Homo sapiens: one gene and its partners. The protein of the gene in region 2 interacts with the protein of the main gene of each other region in a pairwise test. Each region holds a gene or a part of one and is shown on either strand. Other genes may lie near its edges. The genes, in order: AKNAD1, MESD, CNOT9, MCM9, TEX48, FAM13C and MKNK2.

The links.
Region 1: the proteins of MESD (region 2) and AKNAD1 interact in binary tests that used the Homo sapiens proteins (3 or more experiments, as listed by UniProt).
Region 3: the proteins of MESD (region 2) and CNOT9 interact in binary tests that used the Homo sapiens proteins (3 or more experiments, as listed by UniProt).
Region 4: the proteins of MESD (region 2) and MCM9 interact in binary tests that used the Homo sapiens proteins (3 or more experiments, as listed by UniProt).
Region 5: the proteins of MESD (region 2) and TEX48 interact in binary tests that used the Homo sapiens proteins (3 or more experiments, as listed by UniProt).
Region 6: the proteins of MESD (region 2) and FAM13C interact in binary tests that used the Homo sapiens proteins (3 or more experiments, as listed by UniProt).
Region 7: the proteins of MESD (region 2) and MKNK2 interact in binary tests that used the Homo sapiens proteins (3 or more experiments, as listed by UniProt).

The regions. Positions count from the first base shown.
Region 1 is NC_000001.11:108,854,295-108,858,485, reverse strand, and holds the start of AKNAD1 (protein AKNAD1), read left to right. Parts: upstream 1-1,391; 5' UTR 1,392-1,557; intron 1,558-4,191.
Region 2 is NC_000015.10:80,977,536-80,979,819, reverse strand, and holds part of MESD (LRP chaperone MESD precursor), read left to right. Parts: intron 1-342; coding exon 343-601; 3' UTR 602-2,284. UniProt on the Homo sapiens protein: Chaperone specifically assisting the folding of beta-propeller/EGF modules within the family of low-density lipoprotein receptors (LDLRs).
Region 3 is NC_000002.12:218,592,839-218,595,209, forward strand, and holds part of CNOT9 (CCR4-NOT transcription complex subunit 9), read left to right. Parts: intron 1-689; coding exon of another isoform or gene 690-735; exon of another isoform or gene 736-1,009; intron 1,010-1,269; coding exon 1,270-1,438; 3' UTR 1,439-2,371. UniProt on the Homo sapiens protein: Component of the CCR4-NOT complex which is one of the major cellular mRNA deadenylases and is linked to various cellular processes including bulk mRNA degradation, miRNA-mediated repression, translational repression during translational initiation and general transcription regulation.
Region 4 is NC_000006.12:118,827,160-118,830,659, reverse strand, and holds part of MCM9 (DNA helicase MCM9), read left to right. Parts: intron 1-1,409; coding exon 1,410-1,612; intron 1,613-2,529; coding exon 2,530-2,733; intron 2,734-3,500. UniProt on the Homo sapiens protein: Component of the MCM8-MCM9 complex, a complex involved in the repair of double-stranded DNA breaks (DBSs) and DNA interstrand cross-links (ICLs) by homologous recombination (HR).
Region 5 is NC_000009.12:114,679,393-114,683,529, reverse strand, and holds the start of TEX48 (testis-expressed protein 48), read left to right. Parts: upstream 1-1,337; 5' UTR 1,338-1,495; intron 1,496-1,664; exon of another isoform or gene 1,665-2,371; intron 2,372-4,137.
Region 6 is NC_000010.11:59,247,550-59,251,049, reverse strand, and holds part of FAM13C (protein FAM13C), read left to right. Parts: intron 1-3,279; exon of another isoform or gene 3,280-3,312; coding exon 3,313-3,436; 3' UTR 3,437-3,500.
Region 7 is NC_000019.10:2,044,745-2,048,244, reverse strand, and holds part of MKNK2 (MAP kinase-interacting serine/threonine-protein kinase 2), read left to right. Parts: intron 1-1,553; coding exon 1,554-1,641; intron 1,642-1,776; coding exon 1,777-1,878; intron 1,879-1,961; coding exon 1,962-2,059; intron 2,060-3,500. UniProt on the Homo sapiens protein: Serine/threonine-protein kinase that phosphorylates SFPQ/PSF, HNRNPA1 and EIF4E. May play a role in the response to environmental stress and cytokines.

The DNA of each region.
Region 1 (4,191 bases), on a different chromosome or scaffold from region 2:
TGTATACAAAATTCATGAATCCCTGACGCCTGGGCGTGGCCTTGGACATATTATTCTGAGCCATCTCCTATTTTCTTTCATATGTAAATGTTATTCTTGAGCTAGGAATAGGAGAGAAAGAGAAAATTGAAACAGCCAGACCAAGTGTTTTTGAATGCTCTTAAAAGACAAAAAAAAAAAAAAAGACAAAAGTTTGTATCACATCAGAAGTTCCCTACGTGCTCTTCAAAGCTGATTGCTTGCAGTTAAAAGAACCCAGAAGAAGCAGGCACGCCATGATTTTGAAGCTCCGTTTTTGTTCTGTTATTCAACTGCAGTCAACTTCCAACTGTTGAAAAAAAGATGATTTAGAATTAAAGGGTTGCTTGTCTGTGTCGCAAGGCCCTTCAACTTGTTCACCTGTGATATCCAGAGACTCCAAGATGTTGGTGAGTTTCTATTGCAATTGCCATATTGCCATGGTTTTGCCCTTTGTGTTGACTGTAGCATTGTGCTGTTTGAAGACAGAGCAGCATACTGCTTTGTGTAGTAAAAATTGATGGATAATGTACTTAAAGCTTTTAGATGTACACTATTCACATTCTAAATGACAGATACAAAAAGGAATAATCAGAATTTAGATTGTTGAATCATTGCCTCCAACAGCCAACTCTTACCGTGACAAAGTCAGTAGGGCTGATCTTAGAAGTGTAGGACTTGTGAGTGTTACGTGGTTGTACTAACTGGTACCTTAGTGGAGGGGCAGATAAGGTAAGTAGAAACAATGCCTGCTTTCTCCTCCATGTCTGGGTCCTACACATAGTCCCCAGTTTGCCTGGTTTGTAGAGGTTTAAACACAGAACAGAGGGTGTTGGGAATGAGACAAAGAGATTGTCACAGGAACATGGACCCACGGTTTTCCTTTGGTGATGAAAACAATCCTGTCAATATGGAAAACTGTGTTATCACAAAATGGGCTTAGCGAATAGAAGAAATGTCACCTACCAGCCGGAAACAACAATTCGCTGACCATCTTTGGCCTCTTGCCACTAAGGAGTTTTGGTTTTCCCATCTGTAGAAATTCTTAATTGAGTCCATCAGATTCCCAGTCATCCTAGCCATGGTTACCTTCTTCTCTAAGTTGGCAGGTTAGTGAGCTTAGGCTAGCACTTCAGCATCAAATTTAGACTTCATAATAAAGTAAATCACACAGGGAATAGCTGTCAGCATGGTGACCACCTTGTTGTCCATTCCTACTCAGGGACTGGCCTGAAGTGTTTTCACAGCCTGGGTCACTGTGATGTCCTGGCCCTGTTTGCTCAAAGTGTTCATCTCAGAGTGACTTGTGAGGTATTGCTGAGCACATAATGGTCAAGATAGCTGCATAAGCAGGCGTGGCCCCAAATGTAGTCACCTGACTTCAGAAAATCAATTTGGATTCTACAGAAAGGTTCTGTTGGATTCTGAGTGGAACCTCTTTGGATATGCCTTTGGATTTCAAGATTGAGCCAAGTGTTGACATGGGAAGATGCTCCAGTTCCTCCAGTTATCTCAAAGAAGCTCATTACCTTGCTAAGGGTATGGATTGTCCTTTTCCAGAAAAAATCCTCTTGATATTTTGCATGCACACATGCAAAAAATAATAACAACAGAAGCTGTTTTCCTGTATGTAATGAGAGTGTTCCTCAGGTTTCTGGTTTATCTTAATGGTATCTCACTCCTTTTCTTTTCCTTTCTTTCTTTCTTTGTCTGTGTGTGTGTTTGTGTGTGTGTGTTTATGTGTGTGTGAGAGAGAGAGAGAGAGACAGGGTCTTGCTCTGTCACCCAGGCTGGAGTGCAGTGGCATGATCTCTGCTCACTGCAGCCTTGACCTCCTGGGCTCAACTGATCCTCCATCTCAGCCTCCCAAGTTGCTGGGACTACAGGCATATACCACCACTGCTGGCTAATTTTTAATTTTTTTTTTCTTTGTAGAGACAGGGTCTTGCTTTGTTGCCCAAGCTGTTCTCAAACTCCTGTCCTCAAGGAATCCTTCTGTTTTGGCATCCCAAAGTGCTGAGATTACAGGCATGAGCCACTGTGCCTGGACTTTTTTTCTTTTTCTTGAGAGCCAGAGCAAAATTCAAATTTTATCAGTTTTAATTAATTATATTTTAAAAGTGGGAATTTGGCCAACAAAGTATCTTTCCTTTCTATACAAGAAGGGTATGGCGTTTGGCAATGAGCTCCTGAAAATGTAAAGAAAGCATGAGGATAACTTTGGGACTGATACTTGGGTCATTAAAAGTCTTGCAAAACTAGAATTTGTTTTCTTCTTCTTCCATTCTCTCTGTAGGCATTTAAACATACTCTCAGGCCAGGCACAGTGGCTCATGTCTGTAATCCCAGCACTTTGGGAGGCTGAGGCAGGTGGATTACTTGTGCTCAGGAGTTCGAGACCGTCCTGAATAACATGGTGAAACTCCATCTCTAAAAAAAAAATTAAAAATTAGTCAGGTGTGGTGGTGTGCGCCTGTAGTCCCAGCTACTCAGGAGGCTAAGGGAGGAAGATCAGTTGAGCCATGGTGTTGTCACTACACTCCAGCCTGGGTGATAGAGTGAGACCTTGTCTAAAAAAAAAAAAAAAAAGATACTCTGTTTTTTTTTGTTCTAAAAAATTAGACAATATTTTGTTTAAACTTGCTTAGTGATTTATTTATTTATTTATTATTTTTTATTTTTTTGAGACAGAGTCTTGCTGTTGCTCAGGCTGGAGTACAGCGGCATGATCTCGGCTCACTGCAACCTCTGCCTCCCGGGTTCAAGTGATTCTCCTGCCTCAGCCTCCCAAGTAGCTGGGACTATAGGGATGCACCACCATGCCCAACTAATTTTTGTATTTTTAGTAGAAATGGGTTTTGCCACATTGGCCAGGCTGGTCTTGAACTACTGAGCTCAAGTGATCCACCTGCCTCAGCCTCCCAAAGTGCTGGGATTACAGGCATGAGCCACCTCATCCAGCCTGATTTTTTTTTTTACCTTCAAATATATTTATTTACAGATTGAGTTTTAAAATTGTCTTAAAGTTCTTGTAGAGATTATGTCTTTTTTGTTTTGAGACGGAGTTTCACTCTATCGCCAGGCTGGAGTGCAGTGGCGCGATCTTGGCTCACTGCAACCTCTGCCTCCCGGGTTCAAGTGATTCTCCTGCCTCAGCCTCCTGACTAGCTGGGACTACAGGTGTGCGCCACCACGCCCAGCTAATTTTTTGTATTTTTAGTAGAGACGGGGTTTCACCATGTTGGCCAGGATGGCCTCCATCTCTTGACCTCGTGATCCACCTGCCTCGGCCGCCCAAAGTGCTGGGATTACAGGCATGAGCCACCTTGCTTGGACGAGATTATGTTTTACATATGCAATTCCTTCCTTTATCCTTTAAATATCCCCACGGATAAGGAGTGCCTCACCTCTGGACCTGGGCATTCTTCAGTATTCCAATACTGAGACTGGTTTTGTTTTTTCATTTTTCAACAACAATGTATGGAATTCTTACTCTGTGCCAAGCCCTATGCCGAGTACTTTAGTGCCTTATTTCAGGTATTGCTAGTCCTATTTCTCAGAAAAGGCAACCGAGACTCACAAGAGTTAAATAACTTGCCAGATGACACACAGCTAGAAAGCAGAGAAGCCAGAGTATTCAGATCCATGCCTCTCCACTTCTGCTTTCCCACTGTGCCTTTCACTTTCTTGGGAAGCCTTTTCCCTTGTTCTTCAACTTGGATTAGAATAGCCTGTAATTCTTCTCATGAAGACATGCCTCACTTTATACTAAATGTTACCCTCTTTAAATGATTTAAAATAATCCTGCAGTGATATTCTCCTTTCTCTCCACCTCTCTAAACAGAGCATCTGTTTAATTTGGGTTCTCTAACATTGGCATGTGTCTATAAATTAAGATTTTTGTACAATGTCTCACAGATGCTTTTACCACATTTAGTTTGTACTCCTTTTTTTCTTGGACGACTTAGTTCAAAAAAATTTATTTTGGTCAAACATATGATTTTAGCTTTTGAGGTTACCTAATAAATCACCAGCTTATAGACTCATAAAAATTTGGTTGGAGAGAGAACCTCAGAGATCTGCTCACCCAACATAATCATTGTATGGGCAAGGGAGGCTGCCAGCAGCTGTGGTCACCCTGGGCTGGTGCTCCAGGGGAGAGGGAATCTCAGT
Region 2 (2,284 bases):
CGAAGCTGCCTCTTTACCTCCCCAGCAGCAGCCCCTGAGCCACCTCTGCAGTGTCCTAGGGAGGTTTTCCAAATGTTCACTTTTAACACGGGCATCCATTTATACAACAAAGGAACATCCAGTGTCTGTTTCTATTTTGATCTGAGCTGGATGTTTAATAGTTCAGCAAGCTAGTATTTTAATACATGAGATATCAGTAGCTGCTAGGCTTTGGAAAATCCAATTTTTCATTCCATATTCATGTAGAATTTGAAATAAACTGATAAGTGCCAGAGAATTGCTCTGACCCCTTAGCACCTTACTAGTACGTGCTGGCTGACTGATTGCATCTCTCTGCCCAAGGTTCATTGTGGGATCAGACCGTGCTATCTTCATGCTTCGCGATGGGAGCTACGCCTGGGAGATCAAGGACTTTTTGGTCGGTCAAGACAGGTGTGCTGATGTAACTCTGGAGGGCCAGGTGTACCCCGGCAAAGGAGGAGGAAGCAAAGAGAAAAATAAAACAAAGCAAGACAAGGGCAAAAAAAAGAAGGAAGGAGATCTGAAATCTCGGTCTTCCAAGGAAGAAAATCGAGCTGGGAATAAAAGAGAAGACCTGTGATGGGGCAGCAGTGACGCGCTGTGGGGGGACAGGTGGACGTGGAGAGCTCTTTGCCCAGCTCCTGGGGTGGGAGTGGTCTCAGGCAACTGCACACCGGATGACATTCTAGTGTCTTCTAGAAAGGGTCTGCCACATGACCAGTTTGTGGTCAAAGAATTACTGCTTAATAGGCTTCAAGTAAGAAGACAGATGTTTTCTAATTAATACTGGACACTGACAAATTCATGTTTACTATAAAATCTCCTTACATGGAAATGTGACTGTGTTGCTTTTTCCCATTTACACTTGGTGAGTCATCAACTCTACTGAGATTCCACTCCCCTCCAAGCACCTGCTGTGATTGGGTGGCCTGCTCTGATCAGATAGCAAATTCTGATCAGAGAAGACTTTAAAACTCTTGACTTAATTGAGTAAACTCTTCATGCCATATACATCATTTTCATTATGTTAAAGGTAAAATATGCTTTGTGAACTCAGATGTCTGTAGCCAGGAAGCCAGGGTGTGTAAATCCAAAATCTATGCAGGAAATGCGGAGAATAGAAAATATGTCACTTGAAATCCTAAGTAGTTTTGAATTTCTTTGACTTGAATCTTACTCATCAGTAAGAGAACTCTTGGTGTCTGTCAGGTTTTATGTGGTCTGTAAAGTTAGGGGTTCTGTTTTGTTTCCTTATTTAGGAAAGAGTACTGCTGGTGTCGAGGGGTTATATGTTCCATTTAATGTGACAGTTTTAAAGGATTTAAGTAGGGAATCAGAGTCCTTTGCAGAGTGTGACAGACGACTCAATAACCTCATTTGTTTCTAAACATTTTTCTTTGATAAAGTGCCTAAATCTGTGCTTTCGTATAGAGTAACATGATGTGCTACTGTTGATGTCTGATTTTGCCGTTCATGTTAGAGCCTACTGTGAATAAGAGTTAGAACATTTATATACAGATGTCATTTCTAAGAACTAAAATTCTTTGGGAAAAACCCTCAATTGTGATTTTAATAAATTAAAAGTAGCACATTACATGGTTAGAAAATGTCAGTGTTAAAGAATGGTACAAAGTGAAAAGTGTATCCCTCTCTTGCCGCCGGTGGTAGCTTGTCCCAGTGGAAGCTGCTGTTAACAATTTGTGCCCCCACATCCCCCTCCCTGCCCATCCACCAAAAAAAAGTACATTTACTTATGTAAATGTACTTATGGTGATGTATGTTTGTTTTGGCCTCACAGCATCTGTTTCCCCTTAATTTGGTAGCTGCTCACATTTCCCTCGAAAGAACCACACCCTCTGCATTCTCAGTTCTCTGCTTTGGATGGGACATTTGCCCTGCAGTCCCCCCACCCTCCAGGCCATGCCCTCTCCAGGGTGAGGCCTGTGTGATCTACCGTACTAGGGTACTAGGCCCTGAAAGAGGCTTTTCTTGTTCCTCCTGCATCTTGAACCTGGAGCGGGAGCTGTTGTAGGCCCCGCCCTTGGAGAAGAGAACTGTCTGACAGTGGGGAGAGAGCGCCACACCCTGGTGGCATAAACGAGTCCCTGAATCATGCCGTGGCTGAACCAAGCCCTGTCTGTGGGCTTTTTCTGTTGTACTCAGGGCAGTTTGATGGGGTTACTGTCCTGCATAGCCATAATGGCCCAGTATAAAGCAGCTGTTTTGATGAGATAATTGCTTTAATTAAGCAAAAGGTAGCAAA
Region 3 (2,371 bases), on a different chromosome or scaffold from region 2:
GAACTTAGATTCTTTTAAAAATCTGAAATGCTGAATTTTAGTAGCCATCAGTTTCATCTTCTCACTGTAACTCTCCATCCTACTGTGAAATTCCAGAGAGTCTAGGCGATTCCAAAGGAAACCTTATGATGCATTACTCCTGTTGTTTGAATTTTCTGTTGCTACTCTACGTGGTCAGAGAGAGAAGTATATTTTCAAAGATCTCTTAAAAAGGAACACAGCCCAGAGGGCTCTTGAATTCTATTTCCAATTCTGTCCTTGATTCCTATAAGTTTCTTGAGCTAATTATTTTATCTGCTTATGTTCATAATCTTTCTGCCAGAAATCATACACTGTAGATATAATGCATTTTAGAAATGTTTGACCTTTTGCTTTGTAAATCCATAATTCATGCTGAAAGCAACCTGCTCATATTCTGCTAAACCACGTAATGGAGCAATTTCTGTGTTCCTGGGAAGAGAGCTAGCTTGATTTGATTTAATGTGAACTCAGTCTCCTGCCACTGAGTTTATTCAAGCCCTACCTGTTTGTTGACCATTTTATCCTGTTCTTCAGTGGTTCTTGTTTCACTAAAGTTTAAAAATGTGTTTATTTAAAATTCTACTTGTACAAAGAAAACTAGTCTGAGTGCAAAAACTATAACTTTGTTTAAAATAGCTCTACACATAGTTAACATTTACCTTTTTTAGGTTTTCAGATTTGACTTTCTGCTGGTCATCTTTTCAAAGAAAATGAAACGTTTAAAAGTTCATCTGATAATACTGCTACCATAGTTTTGTTTTCACTGCTCATCTCTTATTAAGGTTTTTAACCATAAAACTGAAGCAATTTCTGTAAAGACACAAATTGATAACTTAGTATAGAATTAAAATTCATTAAGTTATCATAAGTTTGATGATATCCTTGTTAATGTACTGATTTTTGAATTATTTTATTTGCCATAATCCATATATTTCTAACATGAGTATTTTGACAGTATTTAATAAATCAGAAAGCTGTTTGAATGGAAGTAAACTATTGAACCTTTTAATTTTGCTTTTTCATGAAATTCTACATTGGGGCATCATTCAGAAAATATTTGTGGATACAGATTTTGGAGATCTCTAAGCCTATGCCTAATATAGCTTTAGAGAATTTTAATGGCTTCTTAAGGAGCCATAGATTCACAGTATTCTAAATATTTATGTCTAAGAAGGGGGCTCTTCCCTGTCCACAAAATGTGGGTTTATTTGTTGGTCTCCCTGGTTGGTTTGTTTGTTTCTGATGTAGGGCACGTGAAGCACTCAGACAGTGCCTCCCTGACCAGCTGAAAGACACAACCTTCGCCCAGGTGCTAAAAGATGACACCACCACGAAACGCTGGCTTGCACAACTGGTGAAGAACCTGCAAGAGGGCCAGGTCACCGATCCCCGGGGTATCCCCCTGCCCCCTCAGTGATCCTTCCCTGTTCCCTCCCACTACTCCCCCAAGTTGGGGAAAGGAGGGGGAACCTACGAGAAAAACAGCTCAGGTTTTATCACCGACTGGGAATAGACAACCTCAATGCTGAACCGCACTGGAGAAAAGGGGCAAGGTACCCCTGCTGAGGTGTATGGGCTGCCATCTCAGGCTGTCTTGAGGACCTGGGCTCCCTCTGCTACTCCCAGGAAATGGGCTCCTGACACAGCAGTCTGCCACCACAGCCCCAGGAGGGTGTCAACACCAGCAAATGCTGTATTTGCAGCATGTCCAAGATGACCCTTCTCCCCTACCTCTACCTAGCCACTGGCAGGGAGGGGAGACAGTGGTGATAGCAGCAGCACTCTAGGCATGGTGAACGCCTGGGACCAAGCCATGTGGCGTTTTTTATTTTGCCTTTCTGGAAGACTCAAGATATGTCTCTTCATTCTCTCTCAGTATTTGTTTACTTTGGTTTTTTTGTTTTTAATCTCAGAGAGAGGTGTGTTTAGTGGGCACAAGCTGTAATATTCAGCAAAACTTTGTCGACTGGCACTGTTTACAAGTCTGTTAGCTGCATAAGCTCAATAAAAAGTTGGTCTGGGCATTACATCCCCTCTGGCAGGCCAATAGCTGCATCAAGCTGTTGGGAGAAATGGGAGGGCAGGGGAAAGATGTAAAGCCAAAGTACAGCAGGAACCCACCACCTGTTTCCCTTCCTTCTCCCATTCTACTCCCAGTCCGGAATGCCACGAGGACCTTAACCTTGTTTCTGGCTTTAGCTGCTAGTTTTCCCAAATCTCAGTGCTTTCCCTTTTTGAACTTCCCTTCTATTAAACTTAAAACAGATGTCTTAATTAATCAGGCTGTCTTGGAAGGGTATTGTATTGGGAGACAAGGGGCGGTGGTGGACCTCACCTTCAATCCAAGTTT
Region 4 (3,500 bases), on a different chromosome or scaffold from region 2:
CATTTTTAAATAAGAAATACAAATAGTCCGTCTTCAGTGTGGGTTAAATGTGCTTTTGTGGGTTACTTAGGAACCGCTTATTACATTGTTCTATGGCAAATTATATTCCAAGTTCTAAACAACTGTCTTTACAAAAGCCATTTTGACACATAAATTATAAGATGTGGACTGTCCAGAATTTTTCCTTGTCACTAATTTTTTAAAAGGGAATTTAGTTTTTGGTAAAAATGCCTTGTTTATCTTTCTCTTATTTATTTAATCAGTGTCTTCTTGTGCCACTTGCCACAAATAAAGATTCTCAAACATTTTCAGCCTCAGGGAATGAAGTAGCTGCTAGCTAGAAATAGATCAGGGATTAACAAATGTAATACATGTTGCTGATGTCATAGGGCTGTGACTTGGGAGGCAGACATCCCACTATAACTAAAAATGGGCATCAAGTGCACAGCATACAAATTTACAGATTCAAATTTTTACATTTGTTATTGCCAATGAATATGTCACATTATTTTGAGAACTAGCCCATCATTAATTAGTTTAAAAACAATATCTAAGTTATGTCACATCCATCCCTATCCTGCCACGCTCCATTTAGGACTACCTTGTCCCTCTACTGGACCATTGTACTAGAGCCCCTACCCTGCATCCTGTCCACAGTCCTTTCCTGTCCAACCCACTCACCAACCCAGTCCTCATCAGACTTCCCTTCACAATGGCTCCTCAAAAACTCAATGCCAAATCAATCATATTTTCTGATTTCCTTTCCCTCCCTCTTTCTCTCTTTTTTGTTTCTTTCGTGTTTAGAAAAAAAATCAAAACAAAATGAGTGAATACACAGAAAGTTTTTGCCTCAACCACTCACTATTCTCCAGAGTCATCCTCACTCTCTACCCTCACCCCCTCTGCAAATGCCTGTCTTTCTCCACCTAAAAATGTCCAGAGGTCTTGAAAGGTTCAGTTCAAAAGCTGCTTCACAGTGTTTGCTTCTGTGTTCATCTTTTCTATCCACATAGATGAATATACATCATCCCTATTTCCCCTGGGAACTTTATTCTTTTAGAACTTAACCATATTCTGCCTTGTGTTACATTATAGCTAGTAGATTGCAAGCCCCTTAAGAAGAGTTTGGTTTAATTTTGGATACTTCTTAGCACTTAGCAAAGGGGTCTCCTCATAGCAGGGGCATAAAAAGTGTTTATTGAACGGTTACTTCTCTTTAAGATAGAATAGTTTCAGTATACTTTGTTGGAAGTTGATGTTTGTGATATCTCCTTCTGTCATTCTACATTTTCTTTCATAGGAGTTCGTAGATTTTCAAGGTGCAAGAGCAGCCCCATTTTATTAACAGCTGTAATCTTGCATTTTATCTGAACCTCACAATCAGTGAATTGTACTGTCTCTCCTGGCAGCCTCGTGTGCAAGCTGAACACAAGGACCACCATCCTGGCAGCAACGAACCCCAAAGGCCAGTACGACCCCCAGGAGTCCGTGTCTGTGAACATTGCCCTCGGCAGCCCACTCTTAAGTCGATTTGACCTGATCCTGGTTTTGCTTGATACCAAGAATGAAGACTGGGATCGTATCATTTCCTCCTTTATCTTAGAAAATAAAGGTACGTGAAGACAAACAAAGCATTCAAAATAACAGAGAGATTAGCTGTAACTAAAAGAAATTCCCTTTCAAGAAAATTAAATAAATACCCAAGATAGGCTATGTAGTACCAGGCAATAGAGAAAAGCTTAGACAGAAAGCAGTGAGAGGAGCCACTTACGGGGCCTCAGAATACTGAGTTGAAGGAAAAGGGCCTTTCTCTACCTGCCACTAATGAGACTAAAGTTGTTATAAATATGTGCCTTATGATGAAAGGGGACAACCTTATGATACAGAATTAACGCTCACCTCTTGCATATAAAACCAGAATGAATTGTGAAACAAATCTCTAAATGTAGGCTTCTCTTTAAATCAGATTTACTCAGGCCGGGCGTGGTGGCTCACGCCTGTAATCCCAGCACTTTGGGAGGCTGAGACAGGTGGATCACCTGAGGTCAGGAGTTCAAGACCAGCCTAGCCAGCATGATGAAACCCCATCGCTACTAAAATTCAAAAATCAGCTGGGCGTGGTGGTGCACACCTGTAATCCCAGCTGCTGCAGAGGCTGAGGCAGGAGAATTGCTTGATCCCAGGAGGTAGAGGTTGCAGTGAACAGAGATCGTGCTACTGCGCTCCAGCCTGGGTGACAGAGTGAGACTCCATCTCAAAAAAAAAAAAATAGATGTATTTGAATATTATTGATTACTGGGCAGACCAGAATTATTCTGAATAATTTTTAATAAAGGCAGGAAGCTTACCTTTATTAAGCTTAGATCATAAGATGCTGATTGTATGCTATGCAGACAAGTCTAGATTTCAATAACCACAAAACATGAAGGTTATCTTTTAACAAATGAGTACCAGAACTTTATAAAAATCCTTAAAATGAGATGTTTGCCTGTCCTAAGAACTTACTGACCCAACACCTGATACATACAGGTTACCCAAGCAAATCAGAGAAGCTCTGGAGCATGGAAAAGATGAAAACCTATTTCTGCCTCATAAGGAATCTGCAGCCCACACTGTCTGATGTGGGCAATCAGGTTCTTCTCCGGTACTACCAGATGCAAAGGCAGAGTGATTGCCGGAACGCTGCCCGGACCACCATTCGGCTGTTGGAAAGCTTGATACGATTAGCAGAAGGTCTATTTCATTCAGCGAATGATGCTTGTATTGAATGCTGCGTGTGTGCAAGGCATGGGGCTTGGCACCATGGATTCAAAGTTGAATGAGAATAACTCCCACTCTAAGGTGCTCATAGTCACTTAAAAATAAAGGCTCTGAGCCAGAAGATCTCTGCTCCTCTGAGGACAGATTATGAGTATTGACTGGAATGTGGTGTCATTAAGAAAGAGGAATCTTTGTGCCATCTCGGGACCTCCTAGAACTTAATATACCATTCACTTAGAAAGCCTTACTTCTGATATTTTGTTTCTCAGTGGTAGCTCTGTTAGCATTTTGAGTAGGACAGTTTCTTGTTTGGAATTGTTTCCCATATAGCATCACTAGTTCTTGCTCATTAATTGCCAGTTGCAGTCCACCCCTGTCATTATAGCAACCAACTTGACAATGCCATGCCCTGCCCCATTACATATATACATATAGCTAACATGTATCTTAATTCTTTTCTTCTAACATTGGCTTTTACATTTTAGCTTTTGTTTAAATCTAAAAAAAGAATTCACATGAACTGAATAATAAAATAAAATAATACAAGCTTAATAAAAAATACTGTAAAACAAATGGACTTTCTTTTTTCAAGGATTTATAGCTAATATTAGGGCAAGAAATACTCAGAATTTAGAATTGCTTGTTTGGTAGCTTTGAAAAGCTCATAGATCATAAAGAGGAGTGCCAGAAATGAAAAATGAGTTTTAATTTTGTGTAGTTTTATAAAAGACTAGAAAATG
Region 5 (4,137 bases), on a different chromosome or scaffold from region 2:
CAAAATGGAGAACCTTCAATTACCATTTAAGAGTGTGGCTTTAATCATTCTGAGCAAACTATCGCAGGGACAGAAAACCAAACACCGCATGTTCTCACTCATAGGTGAGAATTGAACAATGAGAACACTTGGACACAGGGCGGGCAACATCGGACACAGGGCGGGGAACATCACACACCGGGGCCTGTCGTGGGGTGGGGGGAAGAGGGGAGGGATAGCATTAGGAGATATAACAAATGTAAATGATGAGTTAATGGGTGCAGCACACCTACATGGCACATATATACGTATGTAACAAACCCGCACATTGTGCACATGTACCCTAGAACTTAAAGTATAATTTAAAAAAAAAAAGAATGTGGCTTTACCTGTGAGCTTTCAAAGGCTGTTTAACTCACCATCAAATATTTATTAAAGGAATTCAGCACAGCTGTGGAGTCACATCACCCGCCCCAACCACATGAATGACCCCACAGCTGTGCTGAATTCCTTTGCTTTCTTCTGTTTCTATTGTATCCAGTGACCTCTCTGTGCATCAAATGATAGCACTGATTGAGAACATGTTAATCCAATGTGGCTTCCCCATATATGAATAGTACTTGGTTGTCCTAAATAAAGGAATGGAAAGAGTGCCCCATAAGCTGAGAGATTTTGTCAGGACTCCAATACAAAGTGATTCCTTCTTTTCTGAAAAATAAATAGGGAAGAAAATGTCACTTCATTTTTGCATATGTTATTAATAACTACCCTTTCTTAAAGTGCTTACTACATCTAGATACCATGTTAAATGTTTACCTGATTTCATTTAATACTTAAAAATGCAAACAGGACATATAATTATTATTATTCCTGGCCAGGCGAAGGCCACACCTATAATCCCAGCACTTTGGGAGGTCAAGGTGGTGGGGTGGGGGGGGGGGGGTCACTTGAAGTCAGGAGTTCGAGACCAGCATGGCCAACATGGTGAAACCCTGTCTCTACTAAAAATACAAAAATTAGCCGGACGTGATGGTGCATGCCTGTAGCCCCAGCTATTTGGGAGGCTGAGGCATGAGAATCGCTTGAACCTGGGAAGCGGAGGCTGCAGTGAGCCAAGATTGCACCACTGTGCTCCAGCCTGGGTGACAGAGTGAGATTCTGTCTCAAAAAAGAAAAAAAAATTATTATTATTCCCATATTGCAGAGGGAGAACCTGAGCGTGAAGTCACTTTGCCTAAGGTTACTACCCAGTGGGCGGACAGAGACAGAATGGCACCCAGATCTACAGCATCCAGTGTTGTACTGCCCCCTTCTGGCCATCCTCTAGGTGCTTCCTGAGGCCCCAGGACTTGTGCCCCAGTATACAGTCTGGTGGCCAGCATGGCATCGTGCTCAGCAGAACTTCTCCCTCCTCCTCGCTGTTGTGGTCCAGTCCAAACATCCCAGCCCCAACATTCCCTGGTTCCCCAGCTCTGTGACATCACAGACAGCCTTCTGTCTACTCTGCCAGCTGCAGGTGAGTGGGGCTCACAGTTTAAACCAAAGGGCGGGAGGTGATAATTTTTCTGTACTAAAAGGCACAATGTCCCCACCACTCCTGGACACCTATTCATTTTGCTCCAAGAAGCAATCCCCATCCTTCATTTGCTCTAACCTCACTGTTTCTCTCTCTCTCTGGGTCCCAGTCTCCACCTGTGCTGAATGACCTCCCCCACCCCCGCCCGCAGCGCCAGAAGCCTTCCTGTTTGACCTCATTCATCTTTCTTCTGATCAAAGTGCAATGGGGTCACTAGAGACCTGAAGTTCATACCCACTGGGGACAACCCAAGGGCCCTCTTCTTTGGTTTCTGCTTCCCTCTAGAGGGGGTCACTGGTAGTGCAAGAAGTGCCACACATCCCCTAGGCATCTCCCTACATATTCATCAGCATCAGAACCTTCATCTGTATTTATTAAGCCTTTACGACACACCAGAAAGCTGTGCTAAGCACTTTCCATCATTATTTAATCCTCAGAACTACCTTCTATTGTAGATACTATTATTCTCATCCCCATTTTACAGGTCAGAAAACAGAGATTCAAAGAGGTCATAAATTCTAAATTTCCTAGCTAACAGTAGATCTCCAAGAATTATACCCCCAGAGAATGTGCTTGTAACTGATACACTGCTCTCCCTAAGAGCCTTTTCATTTCTTGAAGAGGGTTCAAAAACTCAAAGCTCTCTGCTGTCAACACTTAGAGGAGAAAGTGGTTCTACTACCCTCTTTCTTGCAAAATTTTCTAGTAAAGATGTGGAGAGAGCATCAGCACGGGGTGTCAACAAACCTGCGCTTCAGATCGCTGCTGATAATACGGACGATCTCCACGGTTTATTTTTAATTGAAAAAAATCAAGGTGCAAAACGTGGTGTATAGTAAGCTATCATTTGCATTAAAAAGAGAGAAAAAGAGAATTTGAATAACTACATTTTCTTGTATATCCATAAGCTGCTTTGGTGGAAGATGCCTGCATTCACTACATGAAACAAAAACTGAATTTATTTCTGGTTAAACAAGGGAGAACTGTGCTTGTATGGCAAAGTCTCTGAACAAAGCTCATGGCTGATGCATAAGGGGCTTTGGGAGGTGTTGAGTTCGTGGACTGGTGGTGTTTCAGAGGCAGCAGTGTTTAGGAATGGTAGACCTTTAGCTATGAAATGTACCTACTGGCATGTGTCTGTTAGAATGGTTACCAAGGGAGTTTCATTAATAGATTAAATGAGTGTCACACAGGTTCTGGGGATTCGTTGTTACCGTGGTTACAGGGCAATCCATCGTCACCTAGGAATGTGGGAGCTTCTCTTTTTAATTCTCATTATCTGCCTTCTGGTCTCCCTCAACTAAAGGTGCAGGAAAGACCCTCCAAGATTGTCCAGATCTTCACCACTGTCATTGGCTTTTCTTGAAAACACAGTTCCATTTTTCCATGTACAGAGATCTGGTTTTCATTTTGAGTATCAGTCTGCCTCATTTCTTCTCATTTTTTCTTTGAATCATTTGTTTCACCATTTGTCAAACCAGAGGCTACATAAAAGCATTCAGCTCTCTGGACAACAGAACCTGAATGATGCAAGACAATGATAATTAAGGCCAGGCACAGTGGCTCACGCCTGTAATCCCAGCACGTTGGGAGGCCAAGGCTGGCAGATCACCTGAGGTCAGGAGTTCGAGACCAGCCTGACCCAACATGGGGAAACCCCATCTCTACTAAAAACTAAAATTAGCCATGCGTGGTGGTGCATGCCTGTAATCCCAGCTACTCGGGAGGCTGAGGCAGGAGAATCGCTTGAACCCAGGAGGCGGAGGTTGCAGTGACCCGAGATCGCACCATTGCACTCCAACCCTGGCAACAAGAGCAAAACTCCATCTCAAAAAAAAAAAAAAAAAAAAAAAGGGACAATGACAATTAAAAGTATTTTCAAAAAGATCTGAAAGCCTCTCTGGAGTCATGCCCCATGATTTCCCTGGCATGACCATCTACCTTAGATAGCCAGGCTGCTTTTTCTTTGGGCTTAGCTATAGATTAACCTCACCTGTGATATTAATCCAGGCACAACGGGAGTGTTAGCAATGGTGCAGACTCCCCTAATTAGCTAAAATAAAACCCGAAGGTTTCTGTGATCCATAATTACTCAAACTAAGGATTTTAAATTGGTCAGGTGTACCCTAGGGTGTGGGCTACATGATTTGCTGTGTCAGTCAAGGTGAGGGGAAAAAAGGCACTTTAAATTGTTCAACTCAGAATCCTCAGAAGTCTGTTTCATCTACTAGTAGTTAAACCCCCAAGAAGGGTTTCATCCCTTCAGACTCTGTGTAAGAAGACATAGTCCACCGTGGGTGCTGGAGAATCATGCACTGGAATGGTCTAAGTATTCATCATGCAGAACAATTAGTCTTAATTATAGTTGGAATAGAAGAGTCTGATCTCCACATAAGAAACAAACCATATCAACAAGCAAGCAGTATAGCTGTTCATTTATATTTATAGACAATGCCCTTTGGGAGTTTAGAGGCAAAATAGGAAAATGTTAAGTGCAAAGTTCTCCTCAGAAAGACTCAGTAGACAGATATGGACAGCTGTCCTTCTGACATGGAACATTAGTTCTTCTAATGGCCTTTCTG
Region 6 (3,500 bases), on a different chromosome or scaffold from region 2:
TATTTTTCTGTGTCAACCCAAGTCTCATTATACACTCTATTAGTTTCCTCCAATTTTTGGTGTATCATCAACAAAATTACATATATAATCAAGAGATAAGGTTATTGATCTAATTTGGAAGAGAGATAAATTGCTTAGCTATCTTGAACCTCAGTTCCCATTTTATGAGCTGAAATGGTTGGACTCCTGGGATACTTTGGGAAGCTACAGCTGTCATGTGGGATATCAATCTTTACAAAAATAAATAAATGAAGAGTGTAACTTTCCCAAAGCCACAAGTTATTAAGTAGATGAAATGAGATTAAACTCATTATTCAACTCATAAACTCATCATTAAACTCATCAGTGCTACATGGGCTCCTCTGTATTCCTCTCCATTTAGGTATTGTATTTGACTTTTCAGTTCAGCAGGTTGAGGGTTGTCCTGATGGAAAGGGACTATTTTCCAAAAGCACCTTGAAACTCTCATGCGTGGTCTACTTACCTCTTAGTCCCTGGCAGGTTTTCCATTTTAGCCTACCAGGGATATTCTTTAGGACTGGACCTATTGAGTGAAAAGCTTTTTGCATTCAGCCAATACAGATGTAACAACTTATTTTCTACTTACAATCTTCCTTTCCAGTTGATTGCTACAAGTCCAACTTACCTTTTTGGTGATGTTAAGTAATCTAGTGAGAAATGTTATGTGGCTCATAAATTTAGAATATAAAGCATTTGTTATTTTTTTCCTTTTCCATACTTTTTTCTTTTATAAAATGTTCATGTAACTTTCCTTGTAAAATATTCCTTGGAGTAGTAACTTTGTCTGTCTGGACTGTCTGCTCCTATTATACTTTGGGTAAATATGTGACTTGCACTATAAAGTTCCTGATCTCTGCCTCTTTTGGATTAAAGGTATTCTATGGGAATTTTTCATTCAGGGAAATATTTGTGGAGATGTTATCACATATTCTAAATCTAAACAGTCATTACATATGAGAAATGACACTTTAAGATGTGCGTACACTCTTTTCATAAATTTGAGTTCCCTGAATAAATTTATATTTTTTAGCAATTTGAACTCAGGAATCTATCGTAAGGGGTTTGAGAACTTCCCAGTGTGCTACTAGTCCTGCCTACTGGATCTGCAGTGTCACTTGGTGTGCTTTTTGTCATACATACAGGGAAGTTAGTTATGTTCTATGTATAGTGTTCCACTGCACCTATGAGTCTTAAACCCACTTCAGATAAGTCTGTATTTGTCTATGAAGTTTTATGCCCCCTTGTGATGATATATTTCAACTAAATGCACAAGTGATGATCTTTTACAACTAAAATCAAACAGTTGAATGGCTAGGAAATATGGACCTTAATTTTGTTTATCTAAGACATTTTATTGGGAAGGCCTAAGCATCCATAAGTTAAAATAACCATGCAAATGGATTACTAAAATGTTTAAGGCACTATAAATGTTCTTGGTAATATTTGCCATACAAGAGGCATGAGAATCATGCAGATATTACATTATTATTAATAATTATTAGCCTGGAAGTGTGCTAAGCACTTTAGTATGTTTTATATAATGGAGAAACTCCTTCAGGAAAGACTTGGCAAAACTTTTCATTCTTGTCAAAGCACTCTTTTTTTTTTTTTTTTTTTTTTCTTTTGAGACGGAGTCTCACTCTGTCACCTGGGCTGGAGTGCAGTGACGCGATCTCGGCTCACTGCAAGCTCCGCCTCCTGGGTTCACGCCATTCTCCTGCCTCAGCCTCCCAAGTAGCTGGGACTACAGGCGTACGCCACCACGCGTGGCTAAGTTTTTATATTTTTAGTAGAGACAGGGTTTCACCATGTTAGCCAGGATGGTCTCAATCTCCTGACCTTGTGATCCGCCCGCCTCGGCCTCTCAAAGTGCTGGGATTACAGGCGTGAGCCACTGTGCCCGGCCTCAAAGCACTCTTATTAGCCAAAATGGAATATGCAAAACTACGGAAAATTACATAATTGATTATTAATGTTTCTCTGTAATAATTAGACAATTTCTTTACTTAGATCTATTTATACAAATTAAGGTGGTATTCAGACATCCAGCCATGATAAGTTTGACTCATAACACAGAATGGAGGCAAAGATATATGTTATATAATTTAGACAACAGTTAAGAAGAATGCTGTCTATGGATTTGTATACTGTTCTGAGTTCTGTACTAGAAATTGCAGGGCAATAAATAGTGTTGAAATACAAGTAGATACTATATTCTTAATTTGTATAGATTAGCTTGTTTTTTATTTGGTAAGAGATAGAAATATCTCTTTATCACTACTGGGAAAAATAGAAGGGAGCTAAAGATAAAACATTAAATATATGCTATTTACCTGGTTTCAGCCATACTAACATTAGAGAATACTTGTGGTTATATTCAGTTGTAATTGTGGTGACTATATCTGTGTCCTCTACCCCTTGAATTTCAAAGTCGTGGGTGGAAATGTTTTCAAAACGATTGGCTATCTTATTAACCAAGAAAACAAGAGCCTTCTGAGACCCTGTCGCAATTTTTCCCTTTAGAAAACGTTTCCTGACAACATATTTTTGTGGGAAGGCAAATGGTTTTAACTCCTGATATTACCAAGTTATTCTTCCAAGTAAACAGCAAGAGTATGCTGCATATGTATAAAAATCTATGCATTGTTACATGTCTAGCCTTAGTAGAATTAGTGTACAGAAGAGAACCACCACAATTTAGACTCTTGTCAATTACTTCAATCAAGGAACAGCTCAGTGGTTCTACTATATATTAGCAGAGATAGGTATTATAATTACAAGAAAATCTGGAAACGTTTCAAGTTTGTAAGACAGACCCTAAATGCTTTTCTTGTTACCATAGGTTTATGTTATTTTTATAATGAAATTCCTGTAGTATTTTCAGGTTAATATTTTTAACAACTGTATTAGGGCTGATCATTTTGTACAGCTGTAGGGGTGTGGCAAATAATGGAAGAATGACTGGACAAAGAATGCCTTGAAAGTTCTGTTTCTTGTTTGTTTGCTTCTCCTTAGATCTTTTCACTGACCCCTTTGTTGTAAGTCTAAGCACTAGACCACATATTTGCAAAACACTTATGACATTCAAGTTTTCAAAGGTTACTATTATTTAGAAACTTAGTAACACATGGAAGAAGGAGTGAATGAAGGTGAAAGGGAAGGAAAAGAAGACATGATGCAAAAACCAAGTGGAGGCCGTTACAGTATACTTTCTCATGTATGAATTATAAAAGAATGTTTAAATAATGACTTGATTCATTGTGAACTAACAAATGTATTTTTGTTTTGCAGAAGTCCACAAAAGGAAGATAGGATACCAATGGCAGATGAGTATTATGAATATAAGCACATAAAAGCCAAACTGAGACTATTAGAGGTCCTCATCAGCAAGCAAGATGTGGCCAAAACTATTTGAGGTTCAGGAAATGTTATGATCACTTTCACCCATGATATAAAGTAAAGTTTATTTTCCTCTGCCA
Region 7 (3,500 bases), on a different chromosome or scaffold from region 2:
CAAGAAATGACCCAGCCCCAGCCTGCCCAGTGCAACAGGCCTGGATTTGAATCCTGGCCCCCAGGGCCCAAGGCGGCTTCCTTAGCCGGGTATCAGGGCCCACCAGGGGCTCCCTCCAGGGGTGTCTGGCACTGAAATGGGAGAGTGCAGGATGTGGTCTGGGCAGGGCCTGGCACACTCGCGCCTGTGGGTGCCTCTCCCGTGAGCCCCCAGGACCAGTACAGCACTGTGTATACTGACTCGGTAACTGGTAGCTGCGGGGTTGGGGGGCTGGAAGCAGATGAGCCTCTGGTGGGTGGCGGGGGCGTAGGTGCACAGAGCTGGCAGGGGAAAGGTGTGCCGGGCAGCTGCGGGACATGGGCGGAGGAATGCAGGTGTCTGGGCTTGGGTAGGGGCAGAAGGCAGGGGTGATGGAAGCAGAGCCCCCACCTTCAGCAGGCCCCAGAGCACCAGGCACTGAATTCTTACCCCGCCAGCCCCAGGCACTGAGCGAAAGGGAGGGGAGCAGCTTAGGGGAAGGAGAGGTGGTTGTGTGCCATCTTAGATGGGGGAAACTGAGGCCCAGGGAGGACTCAGCTGCCCTGAGATGGCCCAGGAGGCCGTGGGAAAGCAGGCACAGCCACCAGGCTGGCAGCCCGCCTAGTGACTCACCTCCTTCCCACTGCCCCGCTGCCTTTGATCCCCGCGACCCGCCCCAGAGGTCAGCCGTCCCCATTCTGTGGACAAGCAGACGGAGGTGCAAGACACGGCTTGGGCCCCACGGTGACTCAATCCTGGCATCAGAGGCAGGGTTCCCAAGAGCCAGCTGCTTGTGTCTGTCCCCTCCCCGCAATGCACCCCTTTCCCAGAGGCCCCCAGGGCTCTGCAGGTGGGAGGAGGTCTTCCCCACGGCCCTGTGGAGGTTGGGGCCCATCTTTCTCTGGGGTGGGGCTGTCCTGGGCACTGCAGGGTGCTGAGCAGCACCCCTGCCCCACCCCACTCCGTGCCAGGAGCTCCCCCAACCGGTCACAACCACAGATGTCCCCAGACATGGCCCAGTGTCTCCTGGGGGACAGAATCACCCCCTGGGTTGGCAAATTCCATGGACCCCCTAAGAGACTCTGCGTCCCCTGATCTTGCCTTGCTGAGGTGCTAGGAGGCCTCACGCCTTCCACATGTGGCCCACACCTGTGATCCCAGCACTTTGGGAGGCCAAGGCAGGAGGATCGCTTGAGGCCAGGGGTTTAAGACCAGCCTGGGCAACGTAGCAAGACTTTATCTCTACAAAACATAAATTTAAAAAAGAGAGAAATCCACACACACACTGAGTGTGGGGCAGCGAGGAGGTGAATCCCAGGAGCTTGGGGGTCCCCTGGTTTATGCTGTCTGCCCCTTCGGGAGTTGATCCTGGTGGGAGTTGATCCTGGTGTGTGAGCGGGGACGGAGTTGATTTTTCCGTAATGCTCAGCGCAGGGCTTGTCAGTGTGGACGCTGCGACACTGGGGCAGGATAGGTCTCCCTGCTGCGTGGGCAGGGATGGGGCCTGAGTGCCTCTCCTCTCCTCTCCCCTGCAGGGGCAGAACCCCTTCGAGCTGGCCTTCTCCCTAGACCAGCCCGACCACGGAGACTCTGACTTTGGCCTGCAGTGCTCAGCCCGCCCTGGTGAGGGGCCCGAGGGGGAGGAGGGCACAGGGCAGCTGCTGTCGCTGCCATGGCAGTGGCCAGCCCCTGCAGGGGGGTGGGGGCCGGCCGGCCAGGGCCATGTCCTGAGCCCCCTGGGCGTGCCTCCTGGAACAGACATGCCCGCCAGCCAGCCCATTGACATCCCGGACGCCAAGAAGAGGGGCAAGAAGAAGAAGCGCGGCCGGGCCACCGACAGCTTCTCGGGCAGGTTTGAAGGTGAGCGGGGATGGCGGGCATTGGGGGAGCCGGGAGCGGGGAAAAGCCAGGGTCCCTCTCACGCCCGCCCCGCTGCCCGGCAGACGTCTACCAGCTGCAGGAAGATGTGCTGGGGGAGGGCGCTCATGCCCGAGTGCAGACCTGCATCAACCTGATCACCAGCCAGGAGTACGCCGTCAAGGTGGGCCCGCGCCGCGCCCTGGGGAACCCAGCGCCTTGGGATCGGTGTTGAGCGGGGGTGGAAACAGTGTGTGGCATTCCGGCTGTCCGTCCTACAGCCGGGAAGACCCGTGTCTAAAAGTGGCCACCGGGCCCTGAGTCCAGTCGGGAATGACAGTGAGGGTGGCCCCTCTGGTACCAGGGTGGGGGCTTCAGACAGAGGCACTGTGCCCATTGGGTCCCCTGGGCCGTCCCTGCCTCTGAGCTGTCCCTGAGGGTACATGACAGTTTGGTTTCAAGGATCAAAATGCAATGTCATATCCCAGGGCCCAGAGGGGCTCTGCGTTTGGGGAACCTCAGTGCAGGCCCGTGAGAGCCCCCTGTGTCACTCTAGCCCTGGGCGGCTGCTGGACCCAGGGTGTGGCCGAAGGGCTGGGAGCAGGAGCCCTGTTGAGGCTCTGGTTGTGACCCTGTGACCTTGTGGGCCGGTTGGATCCCGTGTTCCAAGAAATCTTCCAGGCTTCCCTCGTGACCTGGCATCCGGCTCCCGGGCTGGGTGGGGTCCCAGGAGGGCTGGCTGCCTGGGAAAGAGGGCCAGGTGTGCCCTGGCGAGCAGGGCTCGCCAGGAGCCTGTGGGTCCTGGTGGACGGCCAGGCTAGAGCTTTCCTCTGAGGAGAAGGAGGAAGAAGAGGGGTGGCCAACCTGGGGAGGTTACTGGCTAGGTGCTGGGACCACAGTGGCAGCAGGCAGGGACAGACACAGTACGGACGGTCCCTGCCTCCTGGGAGCCCCCAGGCAGGCCAAGGCAATGGTGCAGGAGCACTAGGCCCCTCCGGAAGCACTTCCACACAGCAGGCGTTCCTCTGAGCACAGCCCTCTCCTGGTGGCCCAGCCTTGCTTCCTGTCTTTGTTTGACAGATAGGGACACTGAGGCTCAGGGGGTTAGGTAGCCTGACTCATGCTGTGTGGCCTCTGGGGGATCCTAACTGGTGTCTCAGAGCCACCTCCCTGGTCATCTTGCCACATTGACCTGGTGTGGTCAGTGTTGGGATCTGCAGAGCCTGGGGGACTTCCTGCTGGAGGTGTTGTTGGCCACTGACGTCCGGGAGTTGGTCTGGCCAGGTGGCAGTGGGAGGAGGAGGTGTCCTGGGCGAGTCAGAGAGGCGAATCGCTGGGCCTGTGGGTCTGAGGAGCGTTGTTTCGTTCTATGGGGACTGGGGTGTGGGCCCTCTGCCCTCGGGGTCATGCTGCGGGAAGCCACCCTGGGGTCACCTGGTGCCGTGAGGCTGCTGGCTGGATGCAGAGCCCCCATGCTGGGACCTCAGAATAGGCCCCTTCCATGCCAGGAGGGGCTGCGCCCCCTCCCTGAAGCAGCATTCTAGCCAGCCACCCAAGGGACAGGACGAGGTTCAGTTTTGTCCAGAACCATCTGCAGTGCCTGCTGGGCACAGCTTTCAGCAGCG